4 separate regions of the Homo sapiens genome follow, and regions 1, 3 and 4 are each linked to region 2. The links come from fine-mapping of genetic effects on gene expression. A gene starts in region 2. Each other region holds a variant in brackets. All regions are shown on one strand. Distances are from middle to middle. Region 1 holds the start of PRICKLE2-DT (PRICKLE2 divergent transcript). Region 2 holds the start of PRICKLE2 (prickle planar cell polarity protein 2). Region 3 has its middle 42 kb from the start of PRICKLE2. Region 4 overlaps PRICKLE2 (prickle planar cell polarity protein 2).

What was found. PIP is the estimated chance that this variant, and not a neighbour inherited with it, causes the effect.
Region 1: its variant is fine-mapped to the expression of PRICKLE2 in pancreas (GTEx, PIP above 0.99). The same link has a PIP of 0.9 or more in stomach.
Region 3: its variant is fine-mapped to the expression of PRICKLE2 in liver (GTEx, PIP above 0.99).
Region 4: its variant is fine-mapped to the expression of PRICKLE2 in thyroid (GTEx, PIP above 0.99). The same link has a PIP of 0.9 or more in adrenal gland, caudate, esophagus muscle, lung and tibial nerve.

What each region holds. Positions count from the first base shown.
Region 1 is chr3:64,437,945-64,446,050 of GRCh38, forward strand. It overlaps PRICKLE2-DT (PRICKLE2 divergent transcript), which reads left to right and starts at 7,313. Exons shown (of 4, transcript NR_183714.1): 1 at 7,313-7,463. The variant A/C (reference allele first, on the strand shown) is at 3,991.
Region 2 is chr3:64,222,319-64,230,424 of GRCh38, forward strand. It overlaps PRICKLE2 (prickle planar cell polarity protein 2), which reads right to left and starts at 3,148. Exons shown (of 8, transcript NM_198859.4): 1 at 2,592-3,148. RefSeq lists a silencer at 3,035-3,329.
Region 3 is chr3:64,263,028-64,271,133 of GRCh38, forward strand. It overlaps a transcript of PRICKLE2 not described here. Among named protein-coding and RNA genes, the nearest start is that of PRICKLE2, 42 kb to the left of the region's middle. The variant C/T (reference allele first, on the strand shown) is at 3,721.
Region 4 is chr3:64,154,159-64,162,264 of GRCh38, forward strand. PRICKLE2 (prickle planar cell polarity protein 2) reads right to left here. Exons shown (of 8, transcript NM_198859.4): 4 at 5,782-5,919; 5 at 3,004-3,207. Among named protein-coding and RNA genes, the nearest start is that of PRICKLE2-AS3, 29 kb to the right of the region's middle. RefSeq lists enhancers at 2,667-3,168, 3,169-3,669. The variant CAT/C (reference allele first, on the strand shown) is at 4,285.

The sequences.
Region 1 (8,106 bases), 220 kb after region 2:
GGAAAACTAATAAATACATTAGATGTTTTTGGCTTTTATATACTGACATGGAAAAATGTCCAGAAAGTATTTCTAAGTACGAAAAAAGTAAGCTATAAAAGGCAATATGTAGAATGTGTATTTTCTGTTAAAGCAATATTAATAAATAATCTGAATGAACCTAAGGAAATAATATCAGCCTATAAACAACATATATCTTTAGCTTAGGGGTGAGCAAACTGATTCTGTATAGAGCCAGATAGTAAATACTTTCAGTTTTGCAGGCCATAAGGGCTGTCTCAACTACTCTGCTACTGCAAAAGCAGCCTCAGATGTTACTAAATGAACAGGCATGGCTGTGTTCCAATGAAACTTTATTTATGGACTCTGAAATTGAAATTTTGTATCATTTTTACATGCTACAAAAATGTTACTCTTCTTTTGATTTTTTTTTTCAACGATTTAAAAATATGAAAACCCTTCTTAGCTAGCAGGCCATACAAATCAGGTAGCAGGCTAATTTTGTCCCACAGGCTGCAGCTTGCCAACCCCTGGTCTAGAAGGTATGAAAAAGAAGGGGTTCCTCCTCTATGATATGTATTTTTTAATTTCTGCACATGTGTGAGATATTTTAATATCTTTTAAAATAGTTATGTCTATTTCCAAAAACAAGTAATAATACAGATATACTGGCATAAACTGATATATTTCCTGTAGAGAAAAAAACCCTGTAAGGTATTTCAACTTCTATCAGGGGTATTATTAAATGCCAATGACATAAAGTGAGCCAACCTGCAACCTTCTTATCAGCTAAGTATCTTTCCCTGCCTTGATGTTAGGAATAACTCAATCTATGCTTCCCCCCACCCCCACCCCCTAAAACGCCTTTCCTTGTTTTCCATTTCTTGGCATGTCAGTGACTGAGGCAGAGTGTTTTTCCTCTCCAAGCAAAATAATCAGTGGGAACCCATTTCTTAGCCAAATTACAATCCATTAAAGGAAACCAGGCCGGCATCACCCCGAATTGCTGCCTCAGTCATCAATCAACACAATCGCCCAGGCAACTAAGGAGGGAGGCTTTTCAAGTCGCAGTCTTGGCTAGCCCAGTGAGTGCTGCCTCTGCAGCAACTGCATCCCGGCCAAAGCATCCCGGCTGGAAAGGCAGCCGTTGTCTGGAGACAAACAACTCTGCATAATTATAATGATCTCACAACACTACCCCTGCACTGGGCATTCCATGTCAGTTGCCCATGAAAGTGGGACTCCAGGAGGCTTGTTAGGAAAGCCCATCTTTTAATGCTCAAGTTGAATCTACATTTATCAGCAAAGCTGAAACGTTAAAGGGATTACAAGGGGCTTAGAATCCACTGGAGGTTCATTGATCTTGTCTTGCAAGGCTCATCTCCACACGCCCTTTAGAAAATGCTTTGGTCTGTTCCCTAGCTCTTTGGTTGCCTTTGATTTTACCACCATTCTCATCTGAGTTGGAGGGGGTGTTTCCTCTAGCCCTGATTCCAAAAGATTCTCAGATCCCTATATTCTAAACTAAGAGAAGCTATTTGCATGTTCCCCTAGGTAGTGATACAGACCAGGGGTCAGCAAATATTTTCTGTAAAGATCCAGATACTAAATATTTTAGGTTTTCTGGGCTATACAATCTCGGCTGCAGCTACTTAAGTCTGCCACTGCAGCACGAAAACCTGCTCATTCAGGATTTGCAAGCTCCAATCACTTCCAGTCCCTGACAGGTAACCTAAATATCTGAGCCACAGATAAGATGTAAGTAAATGAGTATGACTTTGTTCAGATAACACTTTTTTCTGGGTACCAAAATCTGAATTTCATGTAATTTTCATATGTTGTGAAATATTACATTCTTCTTTTGATTTTTTCCCCAACCATCTAAAAATGTAACTCATGAGCCATACAAAACAGGAAAAGGGTCACATTGGGCCAGCAGGCTGTATTTTACTGACACCAGTCTAGAGCTTTGCTATTCAAAGTGTGGTCCCTCAACCAGCTTCACAGCATCATCTTAAAGCTTGGTAGAAATGTAAAATCTCAGGCCCCACCTCAAATCTGTAGAATCAGAATCTGAATTTTGAACAAGAGCCCTCAGTAATTTGTATGCAAGTTTCAGAAGTCCCGGCCCAGAACACAGACTTCTGAAGTCAGATAGGGACAAAATACCATTAAGCAGTTGGCTGTGTAACCACAGGCAAATTACTTAACTCCTCTGAGACTCAGTTTCCTTACCTGTTAAAATGGATGTAAATAACTGCACTTACCTTCTAGGGCTGTCATGAATGATAAGGTGGAAAAGATGTAAAACACTTTCCTGGCATTGTCAAGCTTTAAAATGGTAGCTGATAGAGAAGCTTACTTTCTCTTTGGGGGAGATGAGATTGCTCATTCAGGATTTGCAAGCTTCAATCACTTCCAGTCCCTGACAGGTAACCTAAATATTTGAAGAGTTCCCTGAACTCAACTAGATTGCTGGAGAGGATGGTGAACTGAGGTCACGCCCATCTAAGGGGCAACTACTCAGCTCCTGCCAGATACTGTCGGAAATGCAGGAAAGTAGCCCTAATGTTACCTGGTCTTTGGATTTTTCAACAGAAGCCGGAAACCTGGGTTTATGTTAGAAAAAGCCTCCTTCTTTAATATGTTGCATGGATCAAACGAAACCTATCTGCAAGCTGGATTTGACTCAAGGGCTTCCAGTTTGTGAGCACTGCTTTAGAGCAAGTAACAAGAGGCAGTGACTCACAAGAAAATGAGCCAAATTTGGTTTGGAGCCAAATCCCAGCAGCATTCTCCCTAGCCAGGTGACCTTGGGTTAAGTTACTTAACAACCCTCAGCCTCAGTTTTCTCACCAGGAAAATAATCACATCTATTTTATAGGGTTTAGTGAGGATTACATTAAAATGTATGTAAAACACGGAAGCATGATCCCGGACAAAGCAAGCACTCGTTCTTATTGCTGATGCTGTTTTGGTATTACTGTAATTATTACTATTATTATCCATCAGTTCTTGGTATGTAGATACGCAAATCTTCACTGTAAAAATGGCTGTTTTTCTCTCCCTGTTCAAACTGGTTGCAAACAAGCAAGGCCAATTAACCCCCACTCAGAAAGCTATCTTGTAGCAGGGTAAGCTAAGTGCTTAGTTATTAATGATTTTGTTCTGGCTGCAGTCCATGAAGATACCCTAATCTTCCTTAATGAAAATTTCCTCAGCAGCCCAGCCCTACAGAGTCTCCCCTAGGCCACCCTGAAGTGATGTTTCTTCCAGGATAGGTCACCTGCAGGGAGCACCCTGCAGTGGCCACCTTTGCTCCCCAGCTGCCTTACATCAGGTGGAGGAGAAAGGTCCTGCTGACAATTGTGAGACCTTTGTACTCTAAGACCCATAAATACCTGTGTCTTGGTGGTTTTTGGTTTTTTTGTTTTTGTTCTTTTTAGAAATTCTAAAAAACCCCACATTTGCTACCTAAAAGTGTGGGTGACAACAAAAATGTAAAGGGTATATGATCACTCAAGAAAATCCCCATAAAATATACAAGACTTCAACAGGACCATGGGCATCTTTCCTGACACAGAGGAAGACTCGACGTAGGAAAAGTAATTTGCCATACACAGTGCTGGGTGTTTTAACTCAGTGCTTCTCAATCTTTAATGCGTAACAGCAGCAGCCAGGGATCTCGTTCAAGCTCAGGTTTGGATTGAGGAGGTCTGGGGCAGGGCCAGAGACTTTGCATTTCTAACAATCTCCCACGAGATGTTGATGTTGCTGGTACCTGCACCAGGTGCGAACGAGCACAATACTCTTCCCTTGCTTCATTTAGGTCTCTGCTCAGATGTCACCTTCTCAGAGAATCCTTTCCTGACTACTTTATCTAAAATGTGATTAGTGGAATAAGGGCAGGAATATTGTTTTGTTCTTTGCTGTGTCACCAGAGCACCTGGCGCAGAGCAAGCCCTCAAATATTTGTTCATTAGAGAGCTG[A/C]CAATTTGACAGGTGAGGAAGACGGAACTCAGGAAACCTAAGTCATTTGCTCAAGGTCACACAGCTTGCTAAAGCCATTGCAAATGCCAGCCCTGCTCTGTCTGGACTTCAAAGCCCCACCACGTCAGAGAGAAGCAAAGTTTGTTTACAACGTACTTCCTCCCTAGAACTTTAGTGCCGTCATGCCGGGAGGCAGTAACACAATTCTATCCTGTTTTTAAGAGATGCCTGCTGTGTGGACAAAGTACTGGAAGGGGACCAGAGAGGCCAGTGAAGGGGATGATGTGGTGAACAAGGGCAACAAGTGATCATCTTAGGGTTCCTTGGTATTTGGGGTGAGAACAGTTCCGTTCTCCCTGGGTCAGACGAAAGGCAGCATTTGGCCTCTGTGTCAGGCCTGCCTTTTCTTCCTACCCAGGCCCAACTCTCTCTCCCAGGGGCTCATGCTTGCCCCAGTGAGAGGGGTGTAAAGTGGGTTTCAAACTGCCAAAAAGAAGACCGTGCTGTGTAACCCAGAAATAGTTGTCTCTCTTCTCCGAAAGGTCACCCAAAAGTATGCCCATGGGGAAAAGGAGGGGATAAGAGCAAGCAGCTGCTGCCTTCCCAGCAATGGCTGGAAGTGCCATAAAAACCCTATTCATGGAGCCAAAGTGGTCTTTCTGCTGGGGTAGGGCAATTGCTTCAGTATGAAAATCTGTAAAGCCTGTTGAAATGGTCTCTTTCCAAAAGAATAGTTCCATAATGGGCTGAAAATAAAACACTTGTTTTCCCTTTGCAAAATCAGCTAGATTAAAACAGCTTAAAATTCTTCAAAAGGCTGTGATCATGAAGGTCTAGAGTGGCCCTGGACCCCTAGGATCCCCAGATACACTAGTTATGTCCCCTCCTGAGCAGTGGTTGAGGGGATGCTAAAAATCATTAACAAAATTAGCAAATATTTATGATATGCCTGGGACTGGACAAAGCATGTGTTTTTCAAGATCTCATTTAATCTCTACAATCATGCTCTGCATTAAATGCCATTATTATGCCCACTTAACAGTAGGGAAACTGGGAACTAGGGAGAGTAGTGACAGACAGGTGATCAGGGATCACACAGTGAAGGAGAGAAGTCAGGCTACACACCCACCCTGCGCCACTGCCCCACAAAGCCCCTGTTCAGAAGTTGACCCAAGGGCTGCAGAGTAGGGGAGGAAAGGAAAGTTGGAAATCACTTACTCTGCTGTTCATTACTCTGCCTCTCCCACCCCCACTAGAGCACAAGATGCATCAGAAAGGAAGCACTCAGTAGTTTTGTCATGCTGGATTTGGTTTACAAAATAAGGCTTCTACACCTATTCTCATTTTTTCACCCAGGTTCATATTTGGGACAAACAAGGGGCTGGGCTACAGCACACCTATTTGGGCTACCACATCGGTACCACTGATGAATGTCTATGTCTGCCAATTACATATTTATAAGGTCGCCCGCCTTGACTCTGACACAGAAGTTATTAAATGCTCGGGAGCCATAAGGGTTGCGCTCAGTGCCCTGAAACAAAGGCAAAGAGGCTGCCAGACCCATCTGAAGCAGGAACAAAAGCATTTAATTTCTGAAGGAGCTGGTTGGGAGTTTTCTTATAACTGGGTGCCCAGCACACATTACAAATGGGGAAAAGTAGAGATGCACTAATGCGGTGGGGGTGGGGGGCGGGGGGCGGGGTGTGGAATCAAAGCAGGCTTTTCTGCCTAGCATCCAGAAAAAGCCCTCTTCATAAGCAGCTTGAGTGGTGGAGAAAGGGGGAAAGATGCGCTAATCCAAGAGAGAATGTGTTATGATATTGCACAATTTTCTCCTGTCACCAGTTTTTCCTTTTTATGAAGACGCCAGGGAGGATTCACCTTTTGCTTGAAACCAGCAAACTGACAGCTTGTAAGCCTGCACCCCAACTTTTCCCAACCAGAGCCCCAGCAGCCAGATGCATTGGGAGGGCAACCAGCTCCCTTGTCTCCCAAACGTAATCATTCCAATCCAAGCTGGGGCTGCCTGGAAGTCAACACTCAAGGCACATTTAATAAGAAACATCTGGCCGCCGCAGAGGGTTGACACGGCCCAGGCGGGCAGCAATGGATTTGCGGTTGGGACCCAGAGTTACAGGCGCTGAATTAAAAACACAACTGGAAAACACCAGCTAGTCCAGGGAATCCTACACATACAGCACTGTGGCACTTGGCAACACTGCCTTGCCCAGGGTGAATTGTTTTGGAGTGAGTTACCTAGACACATAGTGCCCGTGCTAGGGATCCACAGTTCTCACATCAGTGAAACGCAGCCTTGAGCCCGGCTCTCCTGCATCTCCCAGTGTCTGGCCACCACTTCCACCTCCAATATTTGTAGCAGATGTAGCTCCGCTCTTAAAGAAACAGCCTTTGCATTCTTTCCATGTGACTTACAAGTGAGATTTAAGGCGGAGGGGAATATATATATATCTATAGATATATATATGTATGTATATTACATATTGCATATTTTATCTTGCTGTAGTGTTGTGCATTTACGGCTTCCTACCTCCATTTATGCAAGGCGAACCCAGGGCACTGGTCACCACAGGCGTTACATGGCTGGCCTCGCTCTATCCGCCCCAGTCCGGTCAACTTCAAAACAAAAAGACAACACACGCATGTCTCCACCACGGGGTCTCCCTCCACAGCCCCACTCGTGTCCCTGGCAGGATGGCCTGCCCCTCCCACCCCACCTCCTGTGATTTGAGCCAACTGCTCCTCTTCTGTATGGGGGACACGGGGCGGGGCACTGCCAGTGCCCCAGGGGTGGTCTCCCGCCTGCTTGGGGAAGGGTGCGCGGACCCAGGCAGGTTGCCTCCGGCATGGGCACTACACCACCACGAAATGACCACGGCTGGGGCTTTGTCTCCCCCAGACACCTTGGTCACGGGTTTCTAAGAAACAAAAGCAAGACCCTTCAGTTCCCTGGAGTCCGCAAGAAGCGAGCATCGGGCGCCCGCCCTAGACCGGGCTGGTGCTCCCGGAAAGGGGGCAGCAGAGGACACCCCAAAAGACGGCCCTAAAGTCCCCGCTAGAGCTCCAAGTGGCTGGACGCTGGAGCTTTGGTGCTGGGATTCCGATTTGCCCGGAGGGAGGGGGCTTTCCAGGGATCCCCCAGACTGTGACCCTGAGGGCCACGGTTCGGGTCTCACTGTCGCCCAGCCGGGGGGTCGGAACTTAACCCCTCCCGCGCCTTGGAGCGCTCTCTCGCGCCCTGGACGCGCCCCGCCCGCGGGGCCGGCTTACCTGGGGCCACAGGTGCGCAGCCGCGGGGCGCAGTGGGGCTGCGCGCGGGCGCTCGCGGCCGGCTGGAGGTGCCCGGCGATCGGCCCCGCTCGAGCGGGGGACACTCACCGAGCGGCTGGAGAGTCTTTTCCGGGAGCTCCGGCTGAACATGGCCGGACGCCTCCTGCTCGCAGCGCCGTCCGTCGGTCCGTCCGCGCCGCGGCCGGGAGGGCGGGTAGCCTGGGCGGGCACCCTCGGCGGCCGCTGGCCTGGCTGTCTCCGCCTTGCAGTCCCCGGCTCGCTCCGGAGCGCACGCCTACCCCTCCTCCCTTCCCTCTGCCTCTCCCTCCACGCCCGCAGGTCCCTCCCTCTCTCCCGGCATCCCCCCGCCCTCCCGGGTTCGCCCCGCGGTCCACCGGCTCTTCCCATCCCTCCCCCGCACCCGGCTGGGGCCACTTTCTCCCTTTCCCTGGCTTCTAGGCCCACTGGGCACAACTCCCGGCGCTTACCTGGTCCCGCCCCTGAAGGCTCGTCCCTCACCCTTGTCCCCAGCCTAGGGGCAGGGACCGTTTCACACCCCCCTGCCGCTGTAGCTGGGGTAGGGGAGTGGAGATGGAAGGATGAGGGTTGAGTTTGTTTAAGGTATAATCCACATACAGTAAATTCACCCTTTCTTAGTGCACAGTTCTGCCAGTTTTGACAAATTCGTACAGACCTGTAACCACCACCACAATCAAGCTATAGAACGGCGCTCTCACCCCCGAAAATGGATTATTTTAAAAGTTTGTACCATGCCTAGAATCTAGTGTTCATTAGGTGTTGGGAGAGGAAGAGAAAGTGGAGGAGGAG
Region 2 (8,106 bases):
GCAACCAGGAACGACCAACTCCCAGTTCCGAGTTTCTTGGGAAAGAATTTTATGGCAGACTCCTCTCACTCTTGTAATTCACTTTTGTCTTTCAGATCCCTGTGTCAGAGTTCTAATTCCCCAAAATTAAAAAGAAAGATCTTGGGAGGAAAGGGAGAAACAGCAGTCCACTTGTGTGACAGAAGTAGGCCCACCGGCATGAAGGAGGCAGACCACGAGCCTGGCAAAATTGTGCCATAGCAGTGACACAAAACAAAAGCAGACAGACTGGGCCATGGTAGGCAGGCAGGCAGGGGAGGGCTATTCCTTTCCCTTAGCAGCCAACCCATAAGCTGAAGGCACCCAGATGGTGGCAAAAATTCAGCCTTGGAACTTCTGAGGAGCCAACCAGCAGGTTAAGCACATATTCAATGGCCTCCCTGGATAGAGAAGAAAATGCTCAATATCTGCACTGAAAAGAATTAAGAAAGAAAAGGACTGTCTCTCACATGCATAGGTGAAGCAGAAGAGAAATCTAGAAATGCATTGATTCCAACTGGGACCCCGCAGCTTTCTACATGTGACTTGTCAGCTGCCAAAACAGGATGCCTTCTTTAAGGCTGCCTAAGCCCCAGTTAGTTCTAAATGATTTTCATTATACCAGCTGGTCACTTTCAGTTCTGTGAAATACAGTAGTTCTGGATAATATACTTTATTCTGTCAACTCAATCAATAGGGTGGAAAGTTTCTTTGAGTGGGAATCATTTGGATATAACAGTACCAGAGATGGCATCTTTTCTGCTAGCAAAACCTTTCTGCAGGCAAATGGATGTGAACATGTTGCCTTTTCAATACTGTTTTTTAGCAACAACACTTATAATGATAATGACAAAATGGTAACAATGACAACAACAACAACAACAATAGCAGCTAATATTTACTGAATATTTACTATGTGGCTGCCACTGTGCTCTGCATAGGTCATCTCATTAAATCCTTACACCTATCACCCTAACTATAGATTCCATTGCTCTCTCCACTTTACTGGCAGGAATGGGTAGCTTTAAGTATCTTCAGCTCTTTCCAGCTCCAGAGTCTGAGCCCTGGATAAATATCATCTCATACTATCTAACCTCTAAGTTCCCTTCTCATTCTTTAAGCTTCCATAAATGCATCTTTCTTCCTCTATTTCTATTTTATTCCCTCACATTTCATGGGTAAATCTTTATAAACACACCATTTCAAACAATGCTATTTTACTCTTTCTGGCTGCCCCGTGAATCTTTATAGACTGAGATGCCCGATGGAGCCAGTATGTTTTAATTTTCACATGAAAAACAGAATTCCCAAGGGGAAGGAGCATTTGATGGAAAGGCAAAACCTTTATAAGCACTCAAGGCATTAAAATCCAAATTTCCAAAATATGGTAATTATGTCAAAGTTGTGACTTACTCTGGAGCCCTTGGGGACCCTCATCCTGACCCATCTGTGAAAGCCATCAGCAGGCAGTAAGCCTTCTGAGGAGCAGGATTACAGCAGCCAATTTGGCCTCTAGCAAAGAGGCAAGGCTGCTTCATTTAGTTTAAGTCTCACTGAGATGGTTTAAAACACTCTTTGGGAAGAGATGTGCAGGCAAAGCAAATCACAGCCTTACCAGCTGCAGATTCAGTACACGGCAGTCTATGTCTACATATTCATGGCACACTGGAGCCCTCCCCTGACTGTGCTCATACATGCATTGATATGGGAAGCAGAACTCTCTCACTGGGGAAATAATCTATGTGCCTAAGTTAGACAAGAGCCACATTTGGACCAGCGGATGGCATCACATCTGGTATGGATCGCTAACCTCAGTGTGATTTGGCCCAGCCTGGATTATTTATGATTCATAAAAGTCCCACTGGACCCCAGCATAGTCCAAGACCACATAACAAAAAACCATGGGATTAAAAATCTGTATTTCATTGCAAGACCCCCATGGCAAATTAGTAATGCTATGATTGGTTTTCGAGAAGCCAAGAGTGAGGAGAACTAACTATGATCACTCCCTCAAGAAACCCAGCATAGAGGGCAAACCGAATCATGTGTTCAGCCAGGCTATGCAGTCATATTCTGAAGCTCTGTCACCATTTCTAATCTGAAAGCAGTGTCTAAAATTAAACCTAAATAATTTGAAAGCCATTTCTTTACCTGGAAGTCTCAGCTGAGTCCTTGTTCCTCAGATCCCCTAATGGTTTCTGACATCATGTGTTGAAATGACTACTGTACATGAACGCTATCAGGTATTTGGTCTGTTAGCCCCTTTCCCCATATTATTATGGTTTTTTAAAGAAAGCTACACTTTTAGAGAAACGCTGCTTCTTCTTAAGCATCAAGATTTAAGCGTTTCTTCAGGACTCCCTAGAGCTGTGACATAACACTTTGTAATCGAGCTTTCTAATCAGCATAGAAAAGGCAAAAGGGGTCGCAGGGCCACCAAAAATGCTACCTGGCCAAGAAAACGAAGACCCAATATCCTCCCCCAGTGCAAAGGCCCTAGATCTGGCTTTCTCATCCTCCTTAGAAAATATACTGCTGTTTAATTTGTGAATTAGAGCAAATTTCTTACCCACCTCCAGGGAGGATGAAATGCCCAGTCTCGGAGGAAGCTTCTGCCAGACCCTTGGAGCTTGTCAATTGTCCCAGTTCACTTTCTCCCTGGATCTGACTTCTAAGAACGCAAGCAGGACCTCAGGCAGCCAAAGCATCTTCTCCTCAAACCCCCTTTTCAGTCTGAACCCTTCCTGAAGCTGGCAACAGACTCAAGCCGAGCTGCTCCACATTCCCTCAGGGAAAACAGCACTGCTGGATCCAGACTCTGCTGGGGAATTCACCAAGCAAGAGAAAAAAAGTATGACTTCTACTCTTCCTCTAGATCAGCCTGAGTGCTCAGATCGCCTTCCGGAGGACCCCCAGTTTCCTCTTAACTCCCCTTCTTCATGACAATCTGAAGGAAGAAGTCATAGACTCCAGCCCAGCGTCACCAGCTGATCCTGAGCCAGACCCGGGGTGACTAGTCAGCTGCTCACAGAGCTCAAGCCACTGAACCAGGAAATGTGCTGCTTGGTCAAAAAATAATAATAACTCTCGGTGGCGCTGCTGGTGGTGCCTGAGAAGTCGCTGTTGCAGTGCTTGCATCCTCCGCATGCTAATGAAGCTGTGATGTCAGCAAGTCAGTCACGGCATCTGGACGTCCCATCCTGCTGCCCAGTGCTGAGATTTATTTACATGTAAATTAGCCTTGCCTTCCAAATCAATAATCCCCAAGCCAGGGAGAGGGGAAGGAAGCCTTTGCTGGATGCAAAGGCCCAGCTACGTAACCTCCAAATGAGCATGAAAAAAATCACATATAAGAAGAGAGGCTTTAAAGACACATGCCTATTTTTTTTCTTCTTAAAAGCTGTGCTCTTAGGTGCCAAGGTTCAGATCTGGGCACAATTATCAACCTGAGCGCCTGTTTCAGATTATATGCTGCACCAACCTAGGAGTGGAATCAGAGCACTCTTTTTTTAATTAAATGCTGTGTCAAGCCTTCAAAAATGCCTCTCCTTTTTTTTTTTCTTTCTCTTCTCTCTTCAACTTTCATTTTCGGGTGTTGCTTGTTTTTTGGCCTGAGACTATGTCACCTTTGAGTTTTTGTGCACCTCGAAATAAAGCACAAGTGACTCCTTTCCTCACGTGCTTGGGTGGTGAGTCAGTCAGCTGCCCTTTAACCCCTTACCCCAATTCCAACTGCATGCAGAAGAAGACAAAGCATAAACCTTCCCAGGGCATCTGAAGACCCTGAGACCCTCAGAGAGCATTGCTTCCATCTCCTCATTTTACAGATTAGAAAATGGAGACAACTGGAGAAAGGACTTTTCTAAAGTCACACCAGGATTTCAGCAAGGATGGGTCAGAATCCACATTTCCTAGACCTCAGATAGAGCTTTTGTTGAATACCTTTGGGGTCTCCGAGCTCCATTTTTATACACCACTAGGCGGCCTAACCAAGCAATCTGGAAGAAAGGAATCTATACATTTGGAGAGCCCTGTGTTCAAATCCTGCCTTTCCTTCCTGCTAGCAGTGTGATCTTAGGCAAGTAACTTAACTTGTGGGATCTTCAATAACCTCATCTGTACCATTCACTCATTCAATAAATATTTACTAAGCACGTACTCTATGCCATGCACAGCTCTAAAGGCTAGGTATAAACACAGTCTCTGCTTTCAAGGGCCTTATGGGCTACTGCAATTAAAGAAAGTAAAATATTGAATAGAACTATGGTGAAGATTAACACAATATCACATACTCAATAGCTATTTCTGATATTTTGAATGAAGTTAGAAAAATTCACCGAGGCATACTATCTACTAGGCTGATCACTGTTCCTAGCATCTGAGTATTTCCATGGTCATCTTTAATTGTTTAAAATCATATATTCCTTCAATGCTGCCTGTGCAGTATCCCGGGCCAGGAGAGAGGCAAGAGCCAGGCAATATTCTGGACTCTGTGCCTGTGATAAGGAAGCACTGTGAGTGAAAGTAAAGGGTGAGGGAAAGGTTGGGGAGGCTGGGAGGGAGGAATATTCCATCATGCACAGAAGTGTCCCAAAGGACAAAGCAGCTAGCACGGCTCCTTGCCCACACTCCCCCGCCTGGGGAACCCACTCTGATGAGCTCTGCCCTTCCAGCTGCAGTTCCTGAAGCTTCAAATGAATTTCTTTGTTGGATGTGGGGAAGTTAAATTATGTCTTTTGTTGTATGTAATTGTATTAATAATGCTTAATAACTTCTTTCAGAATGCTTCTCTCTAGTTCCCAGAAGACCTTTCATGGTGAAAATCATGAGACCTGGAATAACTTCTCAGTAAGAGAAATAAAATACAAGCAAATGAATAACACTCAGCCTTCAGTTTCCATCACACAGAACTCAGAGCGTGTAGGGAGGCAGATGGTCTCCCCAGACCTCAATATCCTTCAAAAAGTCAATTAGCAAGTCTAACAGTTTGGGGCCCCCAGTAGCCAAGTGGAAGCAGTGACATTCTAACCCAGTGTGGCCACGAACAAGTCACTTCAACTTTCCATGCCTCAGTTTCTTAAAAATGGGTACACTACTCTCTCATCTACTCATGATCAGCATGGTCATATAAGAGGCAATTCACAGGTGATCAACAATGAAATAAAGAAGACAGCTGAAACATAGCAAGAGATTACTCTTCACCTGGAACAGATGTGACACATCACTACCAACTTCATAAGAATTAACATCATAACATGGAGTCTAAAATGGATTGCCTGGGGTCAGACTCTGGCTGTGACACTTGCTAGGTCTATGACTTGAGGCCTGAGGTCCTTATATGTAACCTAGGGCATAATGATAGTGCCTACCTGCATGGGGCCATTGGGAGAATCCAATGAGCATTAATGTGAATCATTTAACACTGAGCCTGTTACATAGCAAACACTCAATAAGTGTTAGCTATTGGTAATATTAATAGAAACAATCATGCTTCCACCATTAACTTCAGCGCAAATTAGTTAAGTAACCAGTTAAAATTCAAAAGGTGGGGAGAAAGCGGTAAAGGGAAGACTGCAAAATCATCTTTATTCCTAGAGCATATCTCAAAGTTCTATCTAATGTGGGTGAGCCACTGATATGCCATTTTCCATATGATACAATACAAATGCTTTGAACTGCTATGAATCTAGGAAATAAAGGAGTAAAAATGACCAAGAGGCGGGCTCCCTCTTCTGAAACTATACACCAGGACAAGACAACTATATTTTTGAGATGAATACATGCTTCACCCATTCATTCATATATCCATTCACTCATTAAATAAGCTCCTACTATTTGCCAGTCACTGTGCTAGGGTCTGGGGACAACATGGTGACCAAGATACACATGGATCCTGCCTTAAAAGAGCTTGGCAATCAGAGAGAAGACAATTAAGTAGGCAATTAGAGTAGAATGGGGTGTGTGTTATGGCAGGAGGCATGCAGAGTCCTCAAAGGCCTAATTGCATTCAAGAGAGGGATGGCACAAAAGCATGCTGCCCAAGTCCTTTTGCCAGCACACGCTCTGTGAGCTCAGCTTGGTGATGAGGAAGCTGGATATCTATGCATCACACTTACACAGAATATTAAAATTACAAAATCCACAGATTGTTAATTCCCTGTGGTCATTATTTTCATCCTGGAGACCATTCTAATGAGGTGTTTTTTTTTTTACAAATTATACTGGTAGGTATTAGAAAAAGTGAGAAAAAACTACTTTAAAAATTTCAGAGACTTAGTAAATAGGAACAAAACTCATATTGTTTTTCTAAAAAACAGTGAAATTCCACATTCATGACAGCAAACTTCATGCGAGTAAAGGCAGGGAAGAACAGGTAATACATATGAGAAACTCAACCAAATGTTTATTAGGGATTTGTGAAGCGGAGGACACTCTTGTCAGGAGACAAGGATGCAACTGTCGACCTTCAGAACTTTCTGTTTAGGTAGAATGATAGGATATTTATACAAATGACCATAATTGCATATAGTATATAGGAAAAAGGACAAGGAAGACAAAATTAATTATGGCAGAGGTGATCAGGAACCAGGAAAAGTATGATCTGGGTCAGGCCCAAGGTCAAAAACGCTTTTACTTTTTTGGAATTAAAAAACAATTTTATAGTGGGGGAAGGCCTTACTAAGCATGACACAAAATCCAGAAGTAGAAAAAGGCTGCAAAAATTTGACCTTAGTCAAATTCACCTTCTGCTAGAGGTGTTCCAGGCAGGAATAAGAACATGAGTAGGAAGGAAAATTATGAACACAAATGCATAATTAAGAGACATCTGCATGGACACAAGACAGCAAAACAGCAGCAACATGACACTGGCAGGTAATAACAAAGAGACAGCTCCATGCATGCTGGAAAATCAAATCATCTTTCCATTCTAGCCAGCTTTAGGCAGCATCTTGTTAGAGGATTACAGGGAAAGGTCAAGTACATCTCTACTGGTCAGGTTACAGAAGGGAAGGGTAAGTGACAGGAAGGGTGGTAGCCTCCTAGATGAAGAGCTGTAATGAGGAAGGCTGCAATGAACAAGTTTTAAATCTCTGTTTCTACAGGTATAAAATAAGAAGGAATGGATTTAAACGACCTAAAGAGGGTCCTAAATTCCTCTTTAGGTCATTTAAAATCTTTCTTGGACCTAAGGAAGACTTCTGAATATTGAGATAAGAACTGACATGGGTCACTCAAGGAAATGGCAGTGTTTCAGTTTTTGGAGAACTTTAAAAAGACAGACATCACTCATCCTAGCTCATTTAGATTACTACCTTCTGGCCCTGCTATTGGGAAATTCTAATTGTTGTAAGGGATATTACCAAAGTTTCAAACCACTCATCTAATAAGGTTTCCCTTTTCAAATGTGTGCATTTCTGTGTGTGCGTGCTTTTAAATATTTTACTCAAGAGTAATCCTGATATTTAGATTTCAAAGTCTAATAAAGTAAATGTGGGAGAGGAAGCTGACAAAGAACTGTCATGTAAGTTGGTCTAGCATAGGTGATGATGCAGTAACATATGATCCCAGATGTCAATGGCTTAACACAAGAAAGTTTGATTTCTCTCTCAGGCAAAGTTGGTTGGAGGCCCAGAGGTTTTCCAGGTACTCCATTCTAAGTAGCGACTCAGGGATCTACTCTGCTTCCTTCTTGTGCCTCTGTGATCTCAGTGAATAATTTCCAAGTTACAACAACAGCAGAAGAGAGAACTGAAGAGGCTTTTAGGTGCCTCAGCCTGGAGATGAATGATATCACTTCTAGTGGTCAAACTAGTCTCATGACCTCACCCAGCTGCAAGGAGGCTGGGAAGTGTATGCTCACAAAGAACAGGGAAAACAGACAATGGAGGACCCCAGTAATGTCTGCCATAGCTGTCCATTTTAATTTGTGCTATGTAAAAACATTAAACAAAACAAAATACAATCTATTAAACACATAATGCCTTTAAACAAAGGAATGTTTAACATTTAAAAAACTATGATAGTCCTAAATGAGTATTAGAGATCAAAGTTGCATCTGTTTTACCTCAGAACAAAGAAAAAGAAAAT
Region 3 (8,106 bases), 41 kb after region 2:
TGGGTTTCTCTACTCCAGGCCTTCTCATAGCCTTTGAATTGTGATGGCTCAAGAGGGAGATGTAAAACATCGTATGTTCCACGCACACATGGCGCCTTTTTTTGTTTTCTTTTTTAGAAGAGCAATTCACCAAACAGGTATTCCCAATATCACAGTAAGAGAACCACTGCTAGAAGGCAACATGAGTAAGTTTTCAAAATGTGTTTAAACAAAGTCCAAAGTGCCTTCTTGGACATTACATCACTTGTACCCGAAGGAGAAAGGGTCGACATGAACATACCATTTTACAGATAATGAAGCTGAAGCTCATGAGGTTAAGTGGTCTGTCCTGTATCCACAATTCTGCAGCAATTAAGCAAGAAAAATCATTCCTGGTCCATGTGCCCCAAAGACTAGGAGAAATCAGGTCAGGCCAAGGGAGAATCAGGCAAGAAGCTTAAATGAGGCTTTGTTCAGTCTCTGCCTCTCCTCTTTACAATATTCCCTTTGAGTTCACTTTCCACAGGATTACACTCAGAATGGGGGGATATACAGAGAATGCAGGAAGGGCTGCAAGTGAGCTCAGGCCTTGAGCATTAGGAAATGGCTTCAACTTTCTGGGGCTGTGTAGGGTGAGGTCTTGTGAAAGGATCCTGTGGGAGGCATTATGGATTGGAGGCAAGAAAGTGGCACCTACATCCAGGTAGAAAGGGCCCTTGATGGAAACATAACTGTCTTAAGAATTCCAAAAGCTGCAGGAATTAAAAGCACTTCACAGTCAATCAGCCTTATCTTGGGTCATCTTGGTTCAGAACTTAAAGAACCCAAGGCAAATGAGCTGAACACTCCTCAAGTTGTTGCCACGAGGGCCTCTGCCCCATGTGGTCTCCCTCAATTCCATCACAGTGGATTGTCTAAATGGGGACCTCATGGACTGCTGTCTACAGAATGCCAGCATCCTAGAGAAGCAGGCTTCGGCAGAGTGGCGGCAGGGCAGTGGGAAGGGTGGTTACTGAGTATAAATTATAAAGAGAAGACCGCCCACCCCACCCCCCACTCCACAACCCGCCAACAATCCACCAAGAGCAAATGCTTGAGAGCACAGGCTGCATTTAAGAAGCATCCCAGGTAGATGCTTGGAATTAGACAGTTGTAGGTCCAGGTCCCCCGCATGGCCACTTGGTAGCCTTGTGTCTCAGGGGAGTTACCAAACCTCTTTGAGCTTATCCTTCATCATCTGTGAAATAGGCTGGCTGATGGCACCAACCCTCATAGGGTTGTCGTAAGGGTTTTTCAGTAATAAAGAGCAAACAGCGACGTGCTTCTCAAGATAAAGTCCAGAGTTCCACCTGGATATTTCTTAAATGCAGATTTCCAGGTCATACTACAGACCTATGAAATAGACTCCCTGAAGGATATCCCTATGCACTATAAAGTCTGAGAAAGACTGGTAAGACGTTAAGTCTGTGCTTGGCAAAAGCTCAGTAAGTTAACAGGCATCATTCTGTTTACTGATGTTATCATTTATAATATGGCAAGATGAGACCTCTTCTCCAGCCTGGACAACTTAGTGTTCAAAATTAGAATTTATCTAACATCCAACTCAACAGATGTTTGCTTATCCCCAGAAGCCTGAACAGAGCCTCAATCATCAGAAAATATAAAACAAAACCAGTGACTAATTACAGCAGCCTGGGTGAATGCAGAGTAACCTTTTGCAAATGTTCCCAAGAGATCAAATAGTAGCTGTTTTAAAGAAAAAGTAGTAAGAAGCAACCTTTGAAAGATGTGATAAGCAATGTCACGTATACGCTCCCTGTGGATTGGCATCTTGCCTGGGAAGATGCTTTGTGAAGAGGGAGAGACCCTAGTGATAGGTACAAGGATTTCTCTACACAGGCTGGCTGTTAAAAGTCAAATATGAAGCAATTCTCAAAGGCCTCTGGGCTAATCTTGCAGGGAGATCATTCATGAGTTTTCCCAGACATTGAGTCCCACAGTACCTGCGTCTGTTCCCTCCGCTACCCCTACATCTTCCATTCTTCTGGAAGTTGTCCAGATTACAATCTTTGCAAAAATGAGCCTTCCTTTGCTGGTCACACAGAGGAGCAGGATATGAAAAAACATCACCAACAAAACAAAACAAAGCAAAAAGAAAAACAAAAAACAAACAAACAAAAAAAACTGAATGGCAATCAAATGCTAAGTATCCCAGAAAAGAATTCCTCACCATTCAGATTTTGAGAAAATAAAAAATATCAAAGAAACTTTTTTGGAACATCACATTTAAACCTCAATACAATTTCCATAAAGTCTCATTATATTCAACTAGGATTACCATTCTGTGTTTTAGTAGCTAAAAAAAATCATTCCCTCTGCTTCCTCTCATTGACATCAGAATATCGCACAGAGTTTATATTCACCTAGCGCTCTCCTACTTTATGATAGTGATAGGAAGTGCTTAATGTGACTGAGTACTTTTCAGGAAAGATTAAGAAAAACAGCCTGGGGAGCACAGCATCTCTGAGATTTGGTTTTCTAAATTATTTTTAAAAACCCACAGATCTCTGCATACACAGCTACACAAAGCAGCACGCATGTCCCTCAGTTGCCTCTTACCGTCTTTTCATTGCCCATTTTCTATATTGTTGATGTACTTCAGGGCAAACCCAACACAAGACCACTTAGCCTGCTCTGCAAACAGCTCCACAAAGACCATAAATGTCACCACCAAATTGGTGAGTGCTAGTTCAAACCTTTGCACCTCTCATTCCTCGACACATCTGTGTCCCTAAGGATAACAATTCTGGCTTAAAAGAAATCTTGGGAAAAGAAGCCAAGAGTTTTTCCTGTTGAAGCTAAGTGGGAGGAGGCTAGTGGGGAAGTGGGCTCGATAAAACTGTCTCAAAAATAAGTTCCATCTTAAGCTCACAGAGGGAATGAGAGAGTTATTTCAGTTTCTTAAATGGAAGTACAACCCCGAAAATAAAAAATAAAAGGCTTGTTGATGCAGAGGCTTGAAAGCCTGTGTGAGATTGAGGGTATCACTGAGGAAAGACTGCCTTGTAACAGAGCTTTCTTGTATTACACCCAAAGCTGTGTACCATCTGAGGCTGATTCAGGAAAATACTCAAATCTCCTGGTAATTTCCTGCAGACAGGACGTTTAATCATCTCCAAGCCTCCACCGCAAAAGAAAAAAAAAAAAGCTAAACCAAATGATTCACACTCTTAAAACGAATCTGCCTTCAGAAGAAGAACGGTTTTCTGGTCTTGAAAAGCAGCCACAATTTGTTATTCTAACAAAGTGTTCCTTTCCTCCAAACAGAAATAAAAGTTGCTCAAGGAGGGCTTGTCCTGATTTCTGTTCTGCATTTCTTGAAACTTCCATCCAGTCAACAGTTTCTCCTGGCAGGTTCTCAGAAATCCAGAGAGAGCTGGGTAGTCAGTGACTAAGAACACAGGATCATTTTTATATGCCTCCCTAACCCCCACTTTTTGGCCCCATGGGAAGATGCTTTATTGTAGGATGAGCAGAATCAGCTGCATATATAAATTCTTCACTGCCCAGCTCACTTGACACCTTTATCTGAATTGCCCAACAGGCTGGGAAGATTTGGCAATTGATGATTTGAAAAGGAAAGGCCCAGATCTTCCCCAAGTGGTATTTGTTCTGTCTGTACAGACAGGGCCATGTCCATGTCTCTAATTACTCAACTAGCTGCACAGATAAAAACATTTG[C/T]GTACAGAAAGCAGGGAACTCAAAGTATACAAATGATTCACACCACCTAAACAACTGCAAATAAAGGCCGGCCCAGCAAAATAAGGGCTTCTAGAAGCCAAAATAATTTAATATGGGCGGAAATGGAATTTGGCAATCCACACATCAGACTCTGCTCCAATTTTGGAAGGCATGTCTTCCAGCTGCCTCATCTTAAAAAAAAAAAAAAGTAAACTGACCCTCTGCATTCGATTCTCAACCTCTTGCTTAGGTACACACAAGTGAACAGATGGGTGGGGGGAGCTGAAACCTCATCTTTTAAATCTTACCCAGCACCTACCCACAATCTTTCCTGATTATTTTGGTTTTAAAATTTCCCAGGGCACGGCTGCCCAGGCACTCCAGATTTGTAATCCCAACCTTCACCAAGTCCTGACTCTTCCAGCATCTGAGAGGGTGCATTTGGCAACTTGGAAAGTAAGAATTAACTCTCTCATCTCCAAACTATACACTCCCCCATGTAGAGCTAGGAAGGGCTAGGAGAAGGGCCCTCTCCACCTACCCCAATTCAGAAAGAACACATTAACAAATCCAGAGTTGCTTCATTACCGAAGTCCACCAAGAAGCAAAGAAATGGATTTTTAAAGTTCTGGGAAAATAAACAACTTTTATCTTTTCGGGGATATAAGCTCAAAATATAAAGGTATGTGGGAAGAAGTAAGTCATGTTTTAAAGTAGATCTTCCTGGAGATGTTAAGAAATATTTTGAATAGAAAATAACTAGGTCATTAACAGTAAATACCTTTTAAATATTTAGGGGAAAATGAATTCTAAGAGAATAAAGGCTATTTAAAAAGCAAGTCCAGGGATGTTTTCATGTTCCCTCTTAAGTAGTCCTAATACAATAATACCACCATCGCCTCGTGATATTATGATTACCATTGCTGGTTAATAAAGTGGCTGCGCGAAAGGTGGCTGACACTCAGACCCTCAGTTCACCAGGTCCCCACCGCGGGGCTCCTGACTTCCCAGCGTCTGGGTGGCAAAGCGCATCTCTCCCAGAGCTTAGTTTCCAGCTGCAAGGCCCCTTTTTCAGGGGAGCTCCTGAAACCAGGAGCAAACATGCCCCTGCGCCGCCCTCTGTGCTCCCCGGCTATGGGGGGGCCACTTACCCGGCTTAGCCTTGCATTGCTCCGACGCTGCGGCGCCTCTGCCGGCCCGGGAAACTGCGGGGGAGCCGGGGAAAGGGGGTTGGAGACCCAGGGGCAGGGGTAGCGGCCGCAGCTAAGGAACCCAGCGGGGCGTCGGCAGCCAACTGCCCGGAGCCGAAGGGGGCCCTGCAGGGGCTCCGCACAAGGCAGGTAACATTCCTGGGGCGGCAGCTGCTCTGTGCGCAGCTCCGGATCCAGGAAAATCGCTCAGGTCCTGGGGAGAGGAGCTCCAAGCTCTCTGGGCTGCCTCCCGGCTGCTTAAAGGGACACCTCCCCACCTCCCACTCAGCTTATTGGTGAAAATCTCGAGCCACAGGCCAATCCTAGGCCTGTTCCCAAATTGAGATTTCAATCAAGGGAGCTACTACTTTAAAATTAGAAAGGGCTAATGGAGTGCTGAGCCACCTTTCAAAAGCAGAAGGACACAGGCTCTCTGGCCCTCACACCAGAGGTCCTGAGAGCTGGCAGTGGCTGGAAGAGAAAGATTCGACTGTGCCACGCACACAAGGAACAGGGGGCATGCTGGAATCCTAGGCTTCACCCCTCCTGTGCCCCCCTCAACCCACTGCTGTCCTTCAAGGCTCATCCAGTTTATCACAGACACTGGAGGCCTTCGTGGCTCTCTGCTCTTGGTGCTCCTAAAGCCTTTGCTTATGTCTCTTTTCAGCCACTCATCACATTTTCACTTTTTTGCTTAATCTGTCACTCCCTTTACACTGTAAATTCTACCTAGGTAGGAATGTTTTTATCAAGACATATCACTCCCTACCTGGAACGTCGTGAGCTCTCAGTAAATGTTTGTTTATTGATTGAATGAATGAATACACAAAAGAATGAACAATGGAAATATGTCCCATGTTGGCTATGCCAGTACAATTGTTAATTAAGAGAGTAGTCAAAAGGCCAGGCATTAATTTCACACAAAACTGTGTTCATATATGGACTCTCCCTCTTACAGGTAGGTAACCTGCATTTTAGTTTCCTTGTCTGTAAAGCATGATCATGAAATTTACCATCTCATAGGGTTGTAGTAAAGATTGCATGAGCTCATGTTTAGTCCAGAGGAGGCACTCAGTCAATAACCTCGGACAACTGAACAGTCAATAGCTGTTGTTATCACTGCAATTAAAATACATTTGCTGGAGATTTGGACTGAGTCTGACTGCTGATCTGACTTTGTAGTGAGCACAGTTATTAATGAAACAAACGTGAGTTAAGTGCCAGCTCAGTGCCAGGCCCCATGCCAGGTACTAGGATCATCAATGAAAGATAAAGTCCTTGACCACAAGTAACCCATAGTGGTGGCAGGCGGAGGAGGGGAGAGAAGGAAACAGACGAAGTGAATTATGCTAAATGATATACAAGCAAAGACATATGTAAAGGAATGTTTATTGTAGGATAGTTTATAAGATCAAAATAACTGAAAACATAATTATCCAATAATACAGGACGTTAGTAAATTATGATACATCCATATGATAGAATACTATACAGTCATGAGAAAGAAGAGGAAGAACTAAGTGCACCAGTATGCACTGAGCTCCTCAATACATTGCTAAGTACAGTGCAGATAGTAAAACATATTTCTGCTTGCACAAAACATCTTCATGTATTACGTATGTGCACATACATATGCTGTATATGCAAAAAGTACTTCTAGAACCATGCCTAAGAAAATGATAAAGGTTGTTGTTACTGACAAGGTGATTTGAGGCCTAGGCAGATCTAAGAGGATAAGGACACTAACGTTTCATCATATGTCCTTGTATATTATTTGAACCTTTTACCATGAGCTTGTAACAAGGTCCTGGTTCTGGCAAAATGGCAAATGATGACAACCTGAAAATTCCAACTCTTCAAATACCTAGACATGCTAGATAAAATATAACAAAAATTATTTTAAATGCCTAGCTGACTCACAATAAAGAAAGGAAGGCTGGGCACGATGGCTCACACCTGTAATCCCAACACTTTGGAAGGCCACACCAGGAGGATCATTGAAGCCGTGAGTTCAATATCAGACTTGGCAACATAGCAAGACACCATCTCTACACAAAATAAAAAACTAACTGGTTGCAGTGGTGTGCACCTGTAGTCCTAGCTACTTAGGAGGCTGAGGTGGTTGGTTCGGCCCAGGAATTCAGGGCCACATTGAGCCATGAGGGCACCAATCTACTTCAACCTGGGTGACAGCATGAGACCTTACATAAAACAAAAAAAAACAAAAAAAACAAAAAAAAAACCACAGGAAAATACCAAGAAATAAAGAGGTAATTAAAAACAAGAGTAAGAAGCATGCAAAGTTATGCTGTGGCTATGAGAGAGAGGGAAGAGTGGTTGGTGGCAGACAAAAGGGTTGTCTTGGTTCCCTAGGGGCTAGGATTGTAATGCCCACACAGGAGACAGACAGTGCCTTGGGACAAAGAGAAGCAGGAAGCTGTTACAAGACCTTTGTAGAAAGCCAAAAATATTCACTGAGGGCTGCACCTTCAATGAACAAATAGATTGGAAAAATTGACAACCACCTAGGTAAAACTTGTCTGTCTCTACCTGTATTGTGGGTGAGAGGGAAATGTTTTAACTGAGAATGAGAAATCCTAGGGCTGTGCCTTTCATGAGATTCTAGGAATAACAAAAGTCAAAATCAGGAAGCTCTGACTAAAAAAATTAATATTAAAATTAGTCCTGTTCGTGACATGCCAGGAATGCCTTATAGAAACAAATGAAGATTTCTCTGGCCACTTCTACAACCCAGGCTACAACCAATCCCACAAGCATGAGATCCCAACGGTAAATTATACAACATCCAAGAAACTGATGTTACAAGTCAACAAATAAAAGAATAAGAGGCTCAAGAATTACAGGTCATAAAACAATTGACATTCTGAAAAGAAACATGGAATGAGAAAGTTTATAAGGATTTAAAACACTGAAGCTAAAATTGAAACCCTTAAAAAGAACAAGACATGATGACTACTCCTCTCCATAGATCCACTAAAATTAAAAACTCAAAGGACAGGTTAAATAGATACTAGTAAAGCAAGAAACGTAGATCTCACGACACTACACAAATAAAGCACAAAAGGATAAAGAGTTGAAAAATATCTGAGAGATAAAGAGATATGGAGAATATAATGAGAAGGCCCAACGTCTGTGTAATAGGACTCCCATAGGGAGAGACCAGAGAAATCAGGAA
Region 4 (8,106 bases), 68 kb before region 2:
ATAGTTTTCTCAACAAACAGAGCTGGGACAACAGGAGAGCCTCATGTAAAATAATGAATTCAAACCCCTACCTTACATCATACATAAAAATTAACTCAAGGCTGGGTGCGGTGGCTCACACCTATAATCCCAGCACTTTGGGAGGCCGAGGTGGGTGGATCACAAAGTCAGGAGATTGAGACTATCCTGGCTAACACAGTGAAACCCTGTCTCTATTAAAAATACAAAAAAAAAAAAAATAGCCAGGTGTGGTGGCGGGCACCTGCAGTCCCAGCTACTTGGGAGGCTGAGGCAGGAGAATGGCGTGAACCTGGGAGGCGGAGCTTGCAGTGAGCTGAGATCGTGCCACTGCACTCTAGCCTGGGTGACAGGGTGAAACTCCATCTCGAAGAAAAAAAAATTAATTCAAATGGGTTTAAAGAGCTAGGGGCAAAAAAACAATAAAACGCTTAGAAGAAAACACAGGTGTAAATCTTTATGATCTTGAACTAGGCAATGGTTTCTTAGATATGATGCTAAAAGCATAAACAACAAAAAATAACGTAGACTTCATCAAAATTAAAAACTTTATGCTTCAAAGGACATCATCGAGTAAGTGAAAACACAGCTATAGAATGGGAGAAAATATTTGCCAATCATCTATCTGATGATGGACTAGTATACAGAATATATACAAATCACTCTTACAACTCAATAATGAGAAAAATAGGCCAAGTACAGTGGCTCACACCTGTAATCCCAGTGCTTTGAGAGGCTGAGGTGTGTGGATCACATGAGGCCAGAAGTTTGAGATGAGCCTCACCAATATGGTGAAACGCCATCTCTACTAAAAATACAAAAATCAGCTGGGCATGGTGGTGCATGCTTCTAATCCCAGCTACTCAGGAGGTTCGGTCAGGAGAATTGCTTGAACCTGGGAGGTAGAGGCTGCAGTGAGCCAAGATCATGCCACTGCACTCCAGCCTGGGTGACAGAGTGAGACTCTGTCTTAAAAAAAAAAAAAAAAAAAAAAGGGAAAAATAACCCAATTGAAAAGGTAGTCAAAAAATTTAAATTAAAAAAATTTTTTCAGACATTTCTCTGAAAAAGAAGATACACAAATATCTAATAAACACATGAAAAGATGCTCAACATTATTAGCTGTTGGGGAAATATGAATCAAAACCTCAATGTGATACTACTTCATACCCATTACGATAGCTATAATGAAAAAAAAAAACAGATAATAACAAGTATTAGTGAGAAAGTGGACAAATTGGAATCCTCATTCATTGATAGCAGGAATGTAAAATGTTATACTTGTTTTGGAAGACAATTTGGCATTCCCTCAAAAAGTTAAACTTAGAATTATCATATGACCCAGCAATTCCACTCCTGGGTATACACTCAAGAGAACTAAAAATATATGTACACACAGAAATGTTCATAGCAGCGTTGTTTAGAGTAGCCAAAAAGTGGAAACAACTTAAATGTCCATCAATTGATACATGGCTAGACAAAATGTGATACATACATACAACTGAATATTATTCAGCCACGAGAAGGAATGAAGTACTTACATATACTACTATATGGATTAACATTGGAAACACGCTAAACGAAAGAAACCAGACTTGAAAGGTCACATATGATTTCACTTATATGAAATGTCCAGAACATGTAAATCCACAGAGACAGAAATAGATTAGAAGTTGCCAGGGGCTAGGGAAAGGGGGAAATGAGGAGTGACTGCTAATGGATAAAGAGTTTCTCTTTAGTTGATGAAAATGGTCTGGAATCAGCAGTGATGGTTGCACAGCTTTGTGAATATACTAAAATCCACTGAATTATTTACTTTAAAAGGGTCCTTAATGCTATGCAAATTATATCTCAATAAACAAATTTCAAAGTGTGTGCTTCAATCATATTCTAATTGCCATTAGACAACACAAAGCTGTATTCTGAGCACCAATTTTCAGATGTGGAAACTGAGGCATGAAGGTCAAAAGGTGTTCTAGAACCACAGAGTTGGACCTGAATTTAGTTTTCCAGCTATCTTTCTAGAAGGTCTCTCCAGAACATCACCATTAGTGTTAGAATTCAAATTAGTTGAGCCTGATCAGCTTCCTCCTAGAAAGTGAGTCCCTCGTAGGTAGTTTGTAAGAAAGAAATGCCCATGTAACAGTAGGCTGTCTGGCTGAAAAAGGGGAGTGTTACTTACCTCCCACACTGCTATTTACAGAGAAAGATAGATGCAAAAAACTCCTTTGCACAGGAGGAAACCTCTGTCTAGGACTTTTACCCAAATTATTCCCATAAAAGTGGTCAGATTTAGAACATTCTTTTTTCTGCTCCCAACTTATAAAGCTAAACCAGGTTTTCTATTCTGTCAGCTTACACGGTAGGGTGTGCTTCTAGTAGGGGAAGAAGGCCAGGCAGAGGTTTTGCGTTCTATCCTGCTTTCTTACATAGGGTACTTCTTAGAGCATGGGGCAGAGACATCCAAATGAAGTATCCATCTGCCTCCTGAATTTTTTTTTCACTCAGAACTTTTATAAACTGTAGAAAAATCAAATAATGCTACCTATTTTCTCTTTTCTAATCATTTTGCAGCAGTGAATCTTGGAAAATGAAACAATTTTAAGATATAAGTGGCACTCCATTACTGATTATTCCATGAGATTAGGGTTAATATCTAAAGATGCACAATGCAATTTTGTTTTGTTTTGTTTTTAGGGTTCTGAACTTACTTAGGGCCAGTTATATGTCACTTGGGGATCTTCATGGATACAGAAACTGCCTTCCCAACAGGAAGCTATGAGACCTCCACGCTCAGTAAAGCAGGCCGCAACCCCAGACATTCTAGAAACCAGGGATGGGTGGGGCTTCTCTCCCAAAAGGGTTAATGCAAGAAAATGAAGTTGCCTATGGCTTTCTTCAGTGCAGAAAGCCAGAAGACCATGTGTTGGCTATGGTGCAATGAAGGGGTGATGGGCAGGTAAACCTGCTGGAGTTTGCTCTAACCTCATCGCAGGCAGCACAGCGCGGCTTCAGGCACTCAGCATGGTGCCTGCCACAGTATATCTTCCCATCTTGGTAAAAGTAGATCAGATCCACCAGGAGCTCATTGCAGACAGTGCATACGAAGCACGGCGGGTGCCAGCAAACGCCGTGGCCAGCGCGTGACGCAAACACAGCGATGTCTCCACCATTGATCTGGCCTCCGCACTGTGAGGCAAACAGAAACATCAGTAGTCACACTAGCCCCCATCTCCCAGTGCTGTGCATAAATGATAAAGGACAACCACCATTAGCTGGCTACTGAGTGCTTATGTTCAAAGCAGTCACTATGCTTCCTGCTTTACACAGGCAGCAGGGCAGGTTTTTCTTGTCCTCCCTGAACTCTCCTTTCCTAAGGCTTACAAATAATGTAGAGAGAAAGTCATTGGGAGAATGAGGAATCACAAAGGTGGGAAAGAAAGAAAAGCTCTTTTAGCACAATAACGTACAGGGGCTCTGCAGGCAGGAGGCAAACTGGCACAGAGGAAAGCCTCATTATCTTTTAGATACTTTAAACTCCATGCAGAGACACAGCCAGGTTTAACACCACCAGGAGTGGCTGGGGAGGGAGGTGGGTGGGAGGACGGGGCTTGGAGGAGGTGGGACCTATACTTTTATATGGGAGGGAGGGTGGATACATAACAGCACGCTCACCTTTAACTACCTTCTCTGTGTGCCTTTCAGGCATGCTTTTAGTCTGCTTCCTCTAACATCTTTCTACATAGTCTTGATTGACACGGCACCACTTCTAAGGCCAAACTATGGAAAGGGTTTCTTCCTATCCCTTCCCTACCTTCTCACTCATTTTCTCAAGTTCCCTCTTGATCCTAAAAGAAACAAGGCAGAATCACTGGCCACCTATGCTTACAGTTGGGGTTGGGACAAAAAGAATATGGTTTGAGGGACTCTGAGGGAAGAATAAAATGTGGAAAGTAGGTCTAGGGAGATGCTTCTGCTGACCATGGCATGGGCCTTGAGGTTCACAGGTTGAGTATAGTTCTAGGGTCATACAAGAGTGGCTGAGCTCAGGGGACAATGTCTAAAGAGCAGAGAAGCTACCACCAAATCTTTCCCATGCTATGCGTTGAAATGTATCTTAGAAAATGAAGTAAAGACCTCACAAACAGTCTCTGGGAACTCATCCACGTGTGTGACTGGACAAAAGAAAGGCATCATGTTATCCTTACCTTCCGTGATAATGTTAGCAGAGCTAAAGCATGCAGACATAATCCTATATAACCCTCA[CAT/C]GAGTCATCATTCATCCATTCTATAGATGACAAAACCAAGGAAAAGTAACACGGTCAAGGTCATCTGGAAGAAACATGAGTCAAACTTATGAAAGCTCTTTCTGCCTTCACACTCTTGGCACTATTCTACACAATTCTTGGCACCTGCCCACAAAATGCCCAACCTTCCTTCTCCCTTAGGCAAACTCAGCTTGCCTGGTTCCAGGAGACTGATCTGAGAGGAGCAAGGATTTCACCTTGCCTGGATGGAGCACAGTGAATCTCAGATCACAACCACTGACCACCTGTACCTTAAGGGTGGGTCCCAGATATACTTCATAAGAATAAAGATCCCACTGCCAAATCTCTGGTCAATTAGCTACCCCATCCCATATAACTGAACCTTCTCACTCTACCCCTCTGAAATCTCAAAAAAGGGCCTCAAATGACATCTGCTTCCCTTGGGCAGCATCCCACCTCCTCTTCTTTGATCCAGTTAACATATCTTCAGCTCTCAAGGGGTCTACGCAGAGCTTAAGGAGTTAGATAGGAATGTTCAAAAAGCTGTAGGACTTAGAGAAGTACCAAGAATGACGATCAGCACTGGAAAGCCTGTGGCAGCTGAGAGGTGGGGCAAGGTGTGTTCCCACCCTGCAGTCTCTAAAACTCTTCTTCACCACACCCTGAGCACTCAACAGGAGCAGAGGAGACAGGAAATCCAGAATCTTGAACGCAGTGAGGTCCCAGGGAGAATGCCTCTTCACTCCCCTGAACCCACTCTCACCTGTTCACAAATAGCTCCTGTCAACATGACTCGGAAGGGCTTCATGCACTTCAATAAGGAACTCTCAATTCTCAGGAGAAGATCATTTACCTCCCCTTTAAATGGCTCTCGTTCTGGGATGATCCTGGGAGGGAGGCTGACCCATGGCCCAAGCCAACTCCATTTTCTAAAGGTCTCTTTTTAAAACATAAATCCATCATGCCATTGCTCTGCTCAATTCTTCCAATGGCTCACCCAGAACTCTGACTTTATCTGAATTATCTCCCTTCACTCCCTCTGCCCCAGCCCATTGGCCAACTCACTGTTGAACATAATAGACACCCTCCTGTCTCAGGGCCTCTAAGCCGGTCATTCCTTCTGCCTTAGCATTCCCTCTGCCCTAAAATCTGCAAGACTCTCTCCCTCTTGCACATCTGTGCACATCTTTGCTCAGATCTTCTAAGTGGGGTCTTCCCCATCAACCTTCCTTAAAACTGCAGCCTCCCCACACTTCCAGTACATTCAAGTCTCCTTCCTTGCTGTATCTTTTTCTATTTTGTTGATTACATATATTGTCTGACTTCCTCCCCTAGAATCCAACTCCTTAGAAGGGCAAGATGAAACTTTCCCGTCTTTTGTTCACTACTGTATCTCAGGCACATAGTAGGCACTCAGTAAAACAATTGTTGGATGAATGAATGGGTGAAAAGATGCCAGAACAATGCCTCTTCACTCCCCTGAATCCATGCTTACCTGTTCACAAATAGCTCCTGTCATGGTGACTGGGAAAGGCCTGACATTCCCGCGGCCCAAGTTTTCGCGTTTCCTCTGGCTGCTGAAAAGCTTCAGCTCCCTCTTCTCTTCCTCATCCAGGGAGTTGCAATATCGAACCTGAATAGACACAGACAATGGCATGGAAAAAGTCACCCTTGCTCCTTAAGATTTCTGAAGCCCATGACTCTGAGTTTTCTCGTTAAATACACTCTCATTTGGTTTTATAGCCCTCGCCTGAACTTTAACCACAACAGCCTTGGAGAGATTTAAGGTGAGTCTCTACTAAGGTGAGTCTCTACTAAGATTGCGGACAGCCAAAAGAGCTTACCAAAGGCTCTGAATTCTGGATCCCAAGCCTTGGGCAGGCTAAAGGTGCCTGCTCCTTATCCTGACTGCCTCACTCTGCTCACCATGTTAAGATCAAATCATCTGGGGTGGCTCAGCTGCCAGGAAAGAGCTGAGAAGTTCTCCTTCTTCCAAACTGCAGGAACCTGATACTTTCATCTCCATGTGCCCATGCAAGTGATCCTTGACACCAAGAATGACTCTAAGTCAGTGAGCCAGAGCAGGTGTCCACGTGCTCACAGCTTCTGTTCTCCCGTCTCATTTTGGAAAAACAGGGAAACAAAGGTGTGAGCCTGAGGAGTTGGACCAGGCATCTGTGATGCTGCACAAAAGTCTCTGCATGTTTATCTTTGTAGAGAGAGGAACAAGCTGCCTGCTAGACTTCAGTTGAGTCGACTTGCAAGAGACATTTTCCTTCTTGTTAAATATAGAAACTCAGAGAATTAAAGGAGGAACATTAAAGATAATTTGAATCCAGTATCTCCCCTTACTTATGCACACCTTGGGAATTGTGCTATATTCTTGCACTGTTATTTACTCAATGCTGTTTTTAATACTGACTCAGTTTTTTGGAAACTTGGATGCATTTATTTCAAAAGAAAGTATAACTATAAATGGAAAACCAATATCACCCGTAAAAACAAAAACAAAAACAAACAAACAAACAAACAAACAAACAAAAAAACCAGAAGAAACCTAAATAGACTGGGAACAGAACCATGTTGTTAGATTCTAGCTGGTCACTTTGCTTGCAGGAAATCCTAAAACAGAGATCCCTGACGCTCCTACTTAAAAGTGGAGGCCAGTGTGAGTTAGAGAGATATGAGACACCTGCTAGCACTAAATTGAAATTTCCTCCTTGATTATTCAACTACTCTATCACAAGGAATACAATACAACTTAAAATATAGTAACTCTCTCAATATGTGGTTTCGTTTCATTTACTGCCATGTCCACATAACACTCAGAGTCATGTATATACCACACTTTGGGAAACACGGTCCTAATCCCGTCTCCTGTTATACTTTGGAGTAATCTGGACATCAGAAAGGTTAAGTGAATTGCTTGGATGATTTGTTACACAGATGGTTAGAGGGAAACCTTGGAACTAGGACTGTCACATCCTAATTTGAAAACCAGGACAGCTGTGGATATCAAAATTGTCTTATCTATGCAAAAAAGAAAATGGTCAAATATTTACTTTAGAATCACAATCACCCTTTGTCTTCAAAAGAGCCATTTCAAATAGGCTAAATCTGCCCACTGGGTCACACACACACAATTCCTACCAATGGGACATTGTAATCTGAATGGTGTCTCTTTTCATAAAAGCACAGTTAACCATAAACACAACAAACCACTAAAATCAGAGAAGAGCCAATCCCTTCTCTCTGTCAAATAAAAAGAGTTAAAAAAAAAAAAAAAAAAAAGTCTCCATGTAAACGTCCCAGAGAGAACTGCAGTGACCTGAACAGCCCAGAATATATGGTTACACCACTGACATTTTAGGGACATGCTTTCAAAGGAAGGCACACCCTTCCTGCTTGTAAAAACCCGCATTTTCACTTCCAAATTAGTTAACCAGGCATCAGGTTACAATGCTTGCTCTCAACTTTAAAGGAGAAAGCATTATTTATATTTGCTTTATGATGTCTGAAATAAGCAGCAGTAAAGAGGATCATAGCTCTCTTTTTAGGGAACTGCTTCAGTTTTAAAGTTTTTGTCCTGCTTACTCAAATTTATTTTTGAGGCTCTCAAATGATCCCCTTTCATTCTAATGTGGGAAAATAAGACTGAAAAGCACTCATTTCCCCTGGGACGGAGCTGCTGGGATTCAGCTCGTGGGTTGGAGAGTTGGTAGAAAGCTGGTGCCCAGCTCTCTAAGGGGGTTATTTCTCCTATCAATTAAAAATTACATTTTTGTTTTAAATGCAGTCAGAGTCAAGTAGACAGTTCAGT